Regions from separate parts of the Homo sapiens genome. Here region 1 is linked to region 2. Evidence: fine-mapped expression QTL. A gene starts in region 2. The other region holds a variant in brackets. All regions are shown on one strand. Distances are between the middles of the regions. Region 1 has its middle 250 kb from the start of CCSER2. Region 2 holds the start of CCSER2 (coiled-coil serine rich protein 2).

Region 1 (5,384 bases), 250 kb after region 2:
GCATAACCCTTATATCCAAACCAATAAGAGACATCATAGGAAAATGAGGCTACAAATTAATATCTTTTATGAGTATAGATGCAAAAGTCTTCCATATAATACTGTTAAACCAAATCCAGGAATATTTAAAAAGGATTATATGCCATGACCAAGTGGGATTTATCCTAGGAATGCAAGGTTGGTTTAACATTTTAAAACAATCAGTCCATGTACTAAACCATGTGAATAGAATTTTAAAACCATAGTGATATTAATAGACATAGAAAAATCATTTTACAAAATCTCACAAAATCATTTCACTATTTTATGACATATAGAGAACAAAGTAGCAATAGAAAGGAACTTTCTTTGCATGATAAAGGGCATTGACAAAAAAATCCGTAACTGACATCACACTGAATAATGATATACTGGATGCTTTCTCACTAAGATCAGTAACAAGACAAGGAAGTTTGCTCTTATAACATCTATTGAACATTGTGCTGCAGGATCATGCCAGTGGATTAGGCAAGAAAATAAACTAAATGGCATCCAGTCTGGAAAAAAATAAGTAAAACTATAATTGCAGATGCCATAATCTTGTATATAGAAAATCTTAAGTAATCCATACACACAAAACTGTTAGAACTAATAAGTTCAGAATTATTGCAGGATTAATGTATTGCAAGATTAATGTGTAAAAGTCAACTGTATTTCTTTTTTTTTTTTTTAAGTGAGGTCTCACTCTGTCACCCAGGCTGAAGGGTAGTGGCATGATCATAGCTCACTGCAGCCTCTATCTCCCAGGCTCAACTTATCCTCCTGGCTCAGCCTCCCAAGTAGCTGGGATTACAGGTGTGTGACACTGTGCCTGGCTAATTGAAAACATTTTTTTTTTTCCAGTAGAGATGAGATCTCTCTATGTTGCCCAGGCTGGTCTCAGACTCCTGAGCTCAAGCAATCTTTCTGCCTCACCTCCCAACATGCTGGCATTACAGGCATAAGCCACTGCACCTGGCCTCAATTGTAGGTCTATATGCTAGGAATGAATAATCAAAAAATGAAATTTAAAAATTTCATTTGTAGTAACATCAAAAATAATATAAGACTCAGGAATAATTTTCACAATAAAGCACAAGACTTCTACACTAAAAACTACAGAATGTTGTTGAAATAAACTAAATAAAACCTAAATCAATGGAAGGACGTTCTATGTTCATGGATTGAAAGATAGTATTATTTAGATGGCAATACTCCTCAAATTGTTCTACAGATTCTACACAATTCCAATTAAAGTACCAGCTGTTTTTTCCCCCCAGAAATTGACAAGTTGATCTTAAAATTTATATGAAAATGCCAGGAACCCAGAATATTCAAAACAATCTTGAAAAATAAGAACAAAGTTTGAAGATTCACAGTTTTCAATTTTAAAACTGACTCTAAAGTTACAGTCACCAAGACAGTGTGGTACTGCCATAAGGATAGACATATAGATCAATGAAATAGAATTAGAATGCAGAAATAACCCATTATATGTACGGTCAATTGATTTTTAACAAGGCTTCCCAGACAATTTAATGAAGGAAAGAATAGTCTTTTCAAGAAATTTTGCTGGGACAACTGGATATCCACATGCAAAAAAAATGAAGTTGAACACCTTATCTCACACAATATATATATAACTAACATAAAATGGACCACAGATCTAAATGTTAGAGAAACTATTACACCCTTAGGTGAAAACATAGGGGTAAATCTTCATGACCTCGGGTTAGACAATGGTTTATTAAATATAGCACTGTAACTTGATTACCTCTGTAAAGAAAAAAATATAACACTAAAAGCATAAGCAACAACAACAAAAAATAGATAAATTAGATGTCATCAAAATGAAAAACTTATACTTCAAAGATACTATCCAGAAATTGAAAAGAGAACCCACAGAATGGGAGAAAATACTTGCAAATCATATGTCTGATAAGGGACTTGTATCCAGAGTCTATACAACTTAATAAACAGACAACTTTATTAAGCCATTCTTGTTTTGCTATAAGGGAATATCTGAGACCCACCCAGAGCAACTTTTACTCCTGCAAGCTCCATTCATGGTAAGTACCCTACACAGGTGTGCCATTTTTATCTTTTATACTGTATTTTTTACAGTTCCAGTTCTATGTTTGGATTCAGATACTTACCATTGTGTTATTTACAATTGCCTACAGTATTCTAACATGCTGTGCAGGTTTTTAGCCTAGGAGCAGCAGGTTATACCATATAGCCTAGGTGCATAGTAGGTTATATCATTTAGTGTGAGTACACTCTATGATGTCTGCACAATGACAAAATGGCCTAAAGACACATCTCAGAATATATCCCCATGGTTGAGTGATGCATGACTGTATATATGTGTGTGTGTGTATGTGTATACATATGTTTGTATATGTAGAATATATATGTGTA[T/C]ATATATGAGGGTAGGGGTAGGCTGTATTTAAGTATGCCAACAATTGAAACTTAGTGAGAAATAAATGTCTTCCAATTTTGAAAAAAAATGAGAGTATACAAGTATTTATATTAATGCTATATTTTTGAGAGTTTATTTAATCAAATAGTTTTGTGCTTTTTGAGAGCATGTTTCTTTAGTCAAGGACTTAAATGTTTCAAGAGATAAAGAGCTTCTTTTACCATGTGTGAGAACTTGGAGAAACTGTGGGAGAAATGAAAGTAAAGTATTAGAGAGGAGATAAAATAAATGCAGATGGTTGAATGAAATGCTGGAATCATGAGGATGGGCAGAACGTATTGAATGAAGAGAAGAATACTTGGGGAAGAGAAGAATGAAGAGTCCCTTAATACCAGTCAAATGAAAGTACTGGGTGTAAAATTATCAGCAAGCTGGAATGAGCAGAGAAGAACAAGGGAAATGGATGTTCAATCTAGAGACCTGCAATGCATGGTACTTGAGATAATAGCCAAACATACCCAATACCTGTAGAACTCTCTCACTGATAACTATTGAGATCGTTTGGAGCTGCGTAAGTTTCACAAGCTCCAACTCGTCAAATAATGAAAGGCATGAAGGGAAAATATTCAATGTGTTTATTATTTCTCTGCCTCCCCGACATGCACTCTTTCCTAGCTTGATATTCTACATTTAATGTTTTGTGACCTTTAAGTTTCCCACACAACAGAAGCCACTTCAGACCAAACATTGTTAATGGGCTTGTTCTCTACTGCCAATGACCAGAAGGCTGTCCCTGGCTTCCATTGGGGAAGAGGTGAATGAAGACCCAAGGTCAATGCTGCAGTACTAGTAGAAGTGACTAGTGGTTTCTGAACAGTCAGCAGACTGGACATCTGTGCATCTTCATGTTTTCTTTTAGGCAACTGGACAGTAAATGTTCCTCTCAAAGCTTTGGCAGCTGTGAGGATGGTTATTTTTGACTGTCTTTGAGATCACCCATGTGGGGTAGGATGCTGCTGCAGTCCACTACGGGGATGAGGCAGAGCTTGGCAAATCGTCTGTTGTTATTCTTCCTCCTCCATCTCCTCTTTCCAGTCTCCTCCTCCTGGTGGCCTTCTGGGCAATGTGTACTATGGGGAAGAAAGCAGCCCAGCAGCTCTGACAGAAGTATGAATCCCAAGTACTCCAAGGCTCAGGGACTCTGTGCAGGGCCAGTATTGAGTGACAATCTTGAGTGAGGCCAATCAGTATTACATCTATTGTCTCCTAACCAGTCCTCAGATGGTCTGTGCCAAGTGCCTAAGAAAAGGGGGTGTCAAATCATCTGAAACTGTGAGACAAATAAAAGAGCTATAAGGAAAAGGCACTCACAACCCCTATCTCTCACCATATAAAAATAAACTCAAAATGGATTAAAGACTTAAACGTAAGACCTGAAACTGTAAATCTACTAGAAGAAAACATAGGGGAAAAGCTCCATGACATTAGTCTGGGCGAAGATTACTTGCATATGACACCCAAAACACAGGTAACAAAAGTGAAAATAGACAAATAGGATTACATCGAACTAAAAAGCTTCTGCACAGCCAATGGAACAATCAGTAGAGTGAAGAGACAACCTGCAGAATGGGAGGAAATATTTGCAAACCACACTTCTGATAAGGAGTTAACGTCCAAAATATATAAAGAACTCGAACAACAGCAAGACAACAAATAATGAGATTAATAAATGGACAAAAGACTTGAATAGACATTTTTCAAAAGAAGACACACGAATGGCCAAATGTGTATGTAAAAATGTATGAAAAAATGCTCAACATCATGAATCATTGGAGAAATGCAAATTCAAGCCACAGTGAAATACGACTTCACATATTTTAGAAGGGCTTTAATCAAAAAGACAAAAGATAACAAATGTTGTTTAGGATGTGCAGAAAAGGGAACTCCTGCACATTGTTGGTGAGAATGTAGATTAGTACAGGCTTTCTGGAAAATAGCAGGGGGTCCCCCAACAAATTAAAAATAGAATTACCATATGATCTAGCAATTCCACTTCTGGGTATATATCCAAAGGAAATGAAATCCTTATACCAAAGAGGTATGTATACTCCCATGTTGATTGCAGCACTATTCACAATAGCCAAGATACAGAATCAACCTAAGTGTTCACCAGTGGATGAATGGATAAATAAAATATGTCTTATGTACACAATGGAATACTAGTCAGCCATAAAAAGGATGAAATCAGGCCGGGTACGGTGGCTCATGCCTGTAATCCCAGCACTTTGGGAGGTCGAGGCCAGCAGATCACGAGGTCAGGAGATCGAGACCATCTTAGCTAACACTGTGAAACCCCGTCTGTATTAAAAATACAAAAAAATTAGCCAGGCTTGGTGGCAGGCACCTGTAGTACCAGCTGCTTGGGAGACTGAGGCAGGAGAATGGCGTGAACCTGGGAGGCAGAGCTTGCAGTGAGCTGAGATTGTGCCACTGCACTCCAGCCTGGGTGACAGAGCGAGACCCCCAGTCTCAAAAAAAAAAAAGGATGAACTCCTGTCATTTCTAGCAAAAAGGTTGGAACTGGAGGTCATAATGTTAAAGTACGTCAGGGACAGAAAGACATATCCTGCATTTCACTTACATGTGAAACCTAAAAAAGGAGAGGGAGAATATGAAGATATTGGTCAAAGGGTACAAAATTTTAGTTACATGGGAGGTATACATTCAGGAGATCTTTTGTACAATGTGGTGATTATAGTTAATAACAAGTATAATTGAAAATTGCTAAGAGAGATTTTAAGTGTTCTCACCACAAAAATGGTAAGTACATGAGGTAATAGTGTATTATGATTGAGCCTTTCCACATTGTATGCATATTTCAAAACGTGTTGTCCATGACAAATATATACAAATTTTATCTATCAATTAAAACAAGTACACACAC
Region 2 (5,384 bases):
ACAGGGTCTTGCTATGTTGCCCAGGTGGGGCTTGAACTCCTGGCCTCAGGCAATCCTCCAGCCTCAACCTCACAAGTAGCTGGAATTACAGGTGTGTGGGACTGCACCCAACTTGTCTGTTTTTGGATGGTCTCCAGAATCATCTCCTACTGGGGCTCTGGATCAACTGTTTCATTGTGCTGTTTGTCATGGAATCCTAAAACTTCCCCTGAAAGAATGTCTCTCTCTTACATCAAGAGGATGCCAAAAAAGGAGAATTTAGGTTGCAGATGGAATTAAGGCTGTTAATCAACTGGCCTTAAAATAAGGTTCTTATTCTAGAGCATCCAGTTGGACCCAACATAATCATGTGTCCTTAAAAGTGGAAGACTGAGACAGAAGAGGAGGTCAGAGTGATGCAATGTGGGAAGGACTCAAACTACTCTTGCAGGTTTTGAAGATGGAGGAAGGGCAGGCCGGGCACGGTAGCTCACACCTGTAATCCCAGCAGAGGCCGAAGCGGGCGGATCACTTGAGGTCAAGAGTTTGAGGCCAGCCTGGCCAACATGGTGAAATCCTGTCTCTATTAAAAATACAAAAATTAGCTCGGCGTGGTGGCACATGCCTGTAATCCCAGCTATTTGGAAGGCTGAGGCAGGAGAATCGCAGAACCTGGGAGGTGGAGGCTGCAGTGAGCCCAGATCTCACCACTGCACTCCAGTGTGGGTGACAGAGCAAGATTCCATCTCAAAAAAAAAAGAAAAGACCCAGGAAAATTAACTGAAAGCAAATAAAACGTATCAAGGATGCTTATAAAATTAGGAAAATACACTAAAATGCTATTGTGATTCTGCTAAGTATGTACATGTATTAGCATTATGGGAAAGTTTTTTCCTAGCCTTCTTTTTTTTTTTTTTTTTTTTTGGAGACAGGGTCTTGCTCTGTCACTCAGGCTGGAGTGCAGTGACATGATCACAGCTCACTGTAGTCTCAACCTCCTGGGCTTAAGTAATCTTACTGCCTCAGCCTTCTGAATAGCTGGAACTACAGGCATATGCCACTAAGCCTGGTTAATTTCTTTTTTTTTTAATAGACTAGGTCTCTATGTTGCCCAGGCTGATCTTGAACTCCTAGGCTCAAGTGATCCTCCCGCCTCAGCCTCTCAAAGTGTTGAGGTTACAGTCGTGAGCCACCACAACTGGCCTGGGCATTTTATTTTATTTTATTTTATTTTTGAGATGGAGTCTCACTCTGCCGCCCAGGCTGGAGTGCAGTGGCATGATCTCATCTCACCGCAACCTCCACCTCCCAGGTTCAAGCAATTCTCCTGCGTCAGCCTCCTAAGTAGCTGGGATTACAGGAATGCGCCACCACGCCCGGCTAATTTGTTGGTATTTTTAGTAGAGACGGGATTTCACCATATTGGCCAGCCTGGTCTTGAACTCCTGACCTTGTGATCCTCCCACCTTGGCCTCCCAAAGTGCTGGGGTTACAGGCTTGAGCCATCGCCTCCGGCCTGGTGTTTGCTTTTCTAATCTCACTTAATCCAAAGAGAGATTGCACAGCATTTAGACCTAGTCTTTGTCAATATTTTAAGCACACATTATTGTCCAATACATTAAATATCTTAGGGATTGATATTTAAAAGACATTATTTTCTAAATATGAAAGTGTATTATTAAATGAAGTGTGGTTATACAAATCAGGCATTCCGTCTGCTTTTTCCATTTGAGTATCATTGATCTGGAGACAGGAAAGAACTGGATATTTTTCAAGCAGTTCTCCTGAAATGTTATTACAACCGAGCTGTTGGGGCCGACGAGGATTTCAGAGAACTGCAAGTCTACAACCAGGTAAGGGCAACTCCAGAGCTTTAAACAGCCGGCCAGGCCCGGAAGCCTTCCAGGCTGAGGACTCTCAGCAGCAGGACTGGCCGCGTCGAGGAAAAACAAGAGGGGAAGAGATGGCCTCTGGGGGATGGAAGCCCCAAAGGGAAGAAAGACCTGGTTTCTGGCAAAGAAACCACATTGGCCAGGAGCTGTGGCTCACGCCTGTAATCCCAACACTTTGGGAGGCCAAGGTGGGAGGATTGCTTGAGCCCAGGAGTTTGAGACTAGCCTGTAAGACCACTTCCCCCAACTCTAAAAAGAAAAAATAAAAATTAGCCGGGTATTTGGGTCAACTTGTGATAGTTTACTTTGACTAGTGTGGTCTTAGTTGTAATTATTTCGGAGGCTTGGTGATACACGCCTGAGGCGAGAGGATCGCTTAAGCCCAGGAGGCTGCAAGTGAGCTGTGATAGCGCCACCGAACTCCAACCTGGGTGACAGGGCGAGACTCTGTTTCAAAAAAAAAAAAAAAAAGGGAAAACCAGATCAGCACTTGGGGTGCCCCTTCCCCTCAGCTTTAGCAAGATCCTGTGTTTTGATGCGGTAGGCAGGTGCGTGGTTCAGTCATGCCCAATGCTCAGACCACTCCTCACTTTTCACATCCAGGAGGAGGAGCTGTCAGGTTTGACCGCACTCAAGCAGCAAATGTAGTCCAGGGGACGGCTAGAGGTGAGGTCAGCCGCAAGACTGGCGTCACTGCGTGGGCCCAGCAAAAACCTGAGTCAGGAGGCGGCCAGGCAAGGTCAGTGGAGGGGGCGGGGCCCGAAGCGGAGGCGGAGCTTGGGAAAGCCTGGCGTGAGGGCGGGGCGGGGCCAGAGGTGGGCTGAGGCCGGATCAGGCGGTGGGGGCGGTCCCCGTAGCCCCGTGAGGCTCGCGCCTGCGCACGGGCCCGCGGCGGGGCGGGACTGCGCGTGCGCGGTGCGCCGGCCCTGGAGGGCGGAGTCCGGGCGGGCGCCGGCCGAGGGAGGGGGCGCGGCGGCTTTGGAGTCCGGCGCTCCCTCAGGCCGCGGACGCGATGCTGGTTGCTGCGGCTCGGGCGGCGGGGCTGGCGGGGATGTGACGGGCGGCCCTTCGTCTCACCTTCCGTCCTCGGGCCCGCAGGTCGCAGGGCGGCCTGCAGCTGGGCCGCGGCCGAGGAGGCAGCGCGACCTCCGCACGGTGAGATCCGGGCTCAGGGCCAGAGCCGGGGCCGGGGTCGCGGCGGGCGCCGGGGGCAGCCCAAGACCAGGCACGCAGTCCGGGGCGGGGCGGAGGCCCGAACTCCCGGGCTGAGGCGGTGTCGCCCTCCCGTACCCGGCCTCCAGGGTGAGCCTCTCTAGCCCCTCGCGAGCCGCCGGACGCGGGGCGGGCGCGGACCCGGGAGGCCGGAGGGCGCCCTCCCTGCGGCTGTGACAGCGCGGGGCCTCGGGCCGCGGGCGCCGCCGCCTTTCAGGAGAAATCAGGGCGAGGCTGAGGCACTCTGATTTCGGAGCCTGGTTGCGTGTGAGGGTGGATAGGGAAAGTACCGGGGCTCCCCGAATGAGTTCGATTTTTTTTTTCTTTCAATTACTGGGCTAAATGAAAGACACACCCTAAAACACATCCTGAGGTGAAACTTTGGTGGGGCACACCGTTGCCGTAGGTTCAGATCTTCTCTCTTGTCTTTAGACATGTATTTTCATACATTTTTAAATAATGCACCTACTTTCTTGATAAAGTAAAAGGAGGAATGAAGGGACTCCTTTGTGGTGGTCCTTGGTGGCGAAGCTTGTTTCCATTTCAGTAATTGCATATTCATCTGTGTGGGCTCCCCGACCAATGAGGCTGGCTGCTCCCAGACAAGGCCTTAGCGGAGTGGAAATGACTGACGCAGGGACTCTGGTCTCAGATTAGAGTGTTGGTAGCTCACTCCTGTAAGAGAGAAATTGAGCTTTAAGCTTTTTAAAATAGCCATATGAAAAGCATTCCTTTTCTCCTGAGCATTAAAATATGACGGAACCTATTCATTTGGCCAGTTGTTTTTTTTAAAGCATCATCTTTTAGACTAGAGACTTTAGAGATGGCAGCTGCTCTTTAACCAAAAGGAACTTAAGATGCTCTCCTGCAAAAGATGGGTTCAAAACATGTCTTATCCGTCATCCATATGTGATAAAAATGTAAATATTCCTGAGTGTTTGCCTGAAATCAGTCTTCTTCCTCTTGGACTTTATTACTGTTTCTCTTAATTTATGAAAGCTTGTTACTGTTATTTTTTGTTTTCGTTTGTGTTCTAAACAACATTGGCTTCAAATAATCTTCAGGTTAAAAATGCACACTTTGTTGAACCCTTTAGCCATAATTCATACTGTCGTACTTCAGCATAAGCCATAGTTAAGAAAGCACTAGAAGCCATCCTGAAAGCAAGCCGAAAGTCTCTATTAAGAATTCTGTAAAAATTCTACCTTTCCACATTCAGACCTGCATTTTTTGTTGCTTTGACTCAACTCCTTTGACTATTTTGGAGGAAGGGACTTTGAATCCATATTTACAAGTCCTTCAGTGACTCTCCATAGTCTATATCGATAAAATTCAAAGTCCTTCATGATTAGCGGTATTTGTCTCCATTCTAGTGTCATCTTCTACCATTATGCCTGCCCTCTCTATATAAGACTGTTGCAGTTCTCTGAAGATGACATCTTCCTCTGTGGTTTTTCAGTGTTCTTTGTTGAGAATTCTCTACCTAGTAAACAACTTGCCCTTGAAGACCTTACGAAAGTAGCACTTCTGAGGCTTGTCTAGACATTTCATCCCTCTTGTCTTAACTGATTCGTACACTCTCCAGTTAGTATTTGTCAACTGGTAGTTAATGATTTGTTTATGTGTCTGTCTCCACCAGGTTTTGGGGTTTCTTTTGTGTTTTTTGAGACAGAGTCTTGCACTGTGGCCTGGGCTGGAGTGCAATGGCCTCATCTCGGCTCACTGCAACTTCTGCTTCCTGGGTTCATGCGATTCTCTTGCCTCAGCCTCCTGAGTAGCTGGAATTATAGGCACACACCACCACACCTGGCTAATTTTTTTTTAGTAGAGACGGGTTTCAGTATGTTGGCCAGACTGGTCTCAAACTCCTGACCTCGTGATCCGCCCACCTCGGCCTCCCAAAGTGCTGGGATTGTAGGCTGGTTAGGAATGAAACCCCAGTTATGTTAAAAAAAATCCATTTTATGATACAGGAATAAAAAGGGCATGACCAATAAAGATTGCTGCTTCATTGGTCCTACAACTTTATTTTGAGGCGCAAAGTCACGCAGGTAGAAAGGGATGGCGGGGATTACAGTCCAGGTCTTTTGACCATCTGTGTATTTCACTTTTGCCCCCAGTCTCCTAATTCTAAATCTTAATTGTTTTACAATTTGAATGGGAGTTGTGAGCGACTTGGATGTGTTCTGAAAAAAGGGTCAATAGAATATTGAACTTGAAAGAATTAACAGATTATTTGGTTCAACTTTAAAAATTTTACGGTTAAACAACTCAGCCTAAAAAGACAACTTGTTTGAGATT

The links. PIP is the estimated chance that this variant, and not a neighbour inherited with it, causes the effect. A credible set is the group of variants that fine-mapping cannot tell apart.
Region 1: its variant is the best candidate, but not a certain one, in a credible set for the expression of CCSER2 in whole blood (TOPMed, PIP 0.61).

What each region holds. Positions count from the first base shown.
Region 1 is chr10:84,576,650-84,582,033 of GRCh38, forward strand. No RefSeq gene overlaps it. Among named protein-coding and RNA genes, the nearest start is that of CCSER2, 250 kb to the left of the region's middle. The variant T/C (reference allele first, on the strand shown) is at 2,440.
Region 2 is chr10:84,325,783-84,331,166 of GRCh38, forward strand. CCSER2 (coiled-coil serine rich protein 2) reads left to right here and starts at 2,807. Exons shown (of 10, transcript NM_001284240.2): 1 at 2,807-3,026. RefSeq lists a silencer at 2,571-3,300 and enhancers at 3,351-3,700, 4,748-4,827.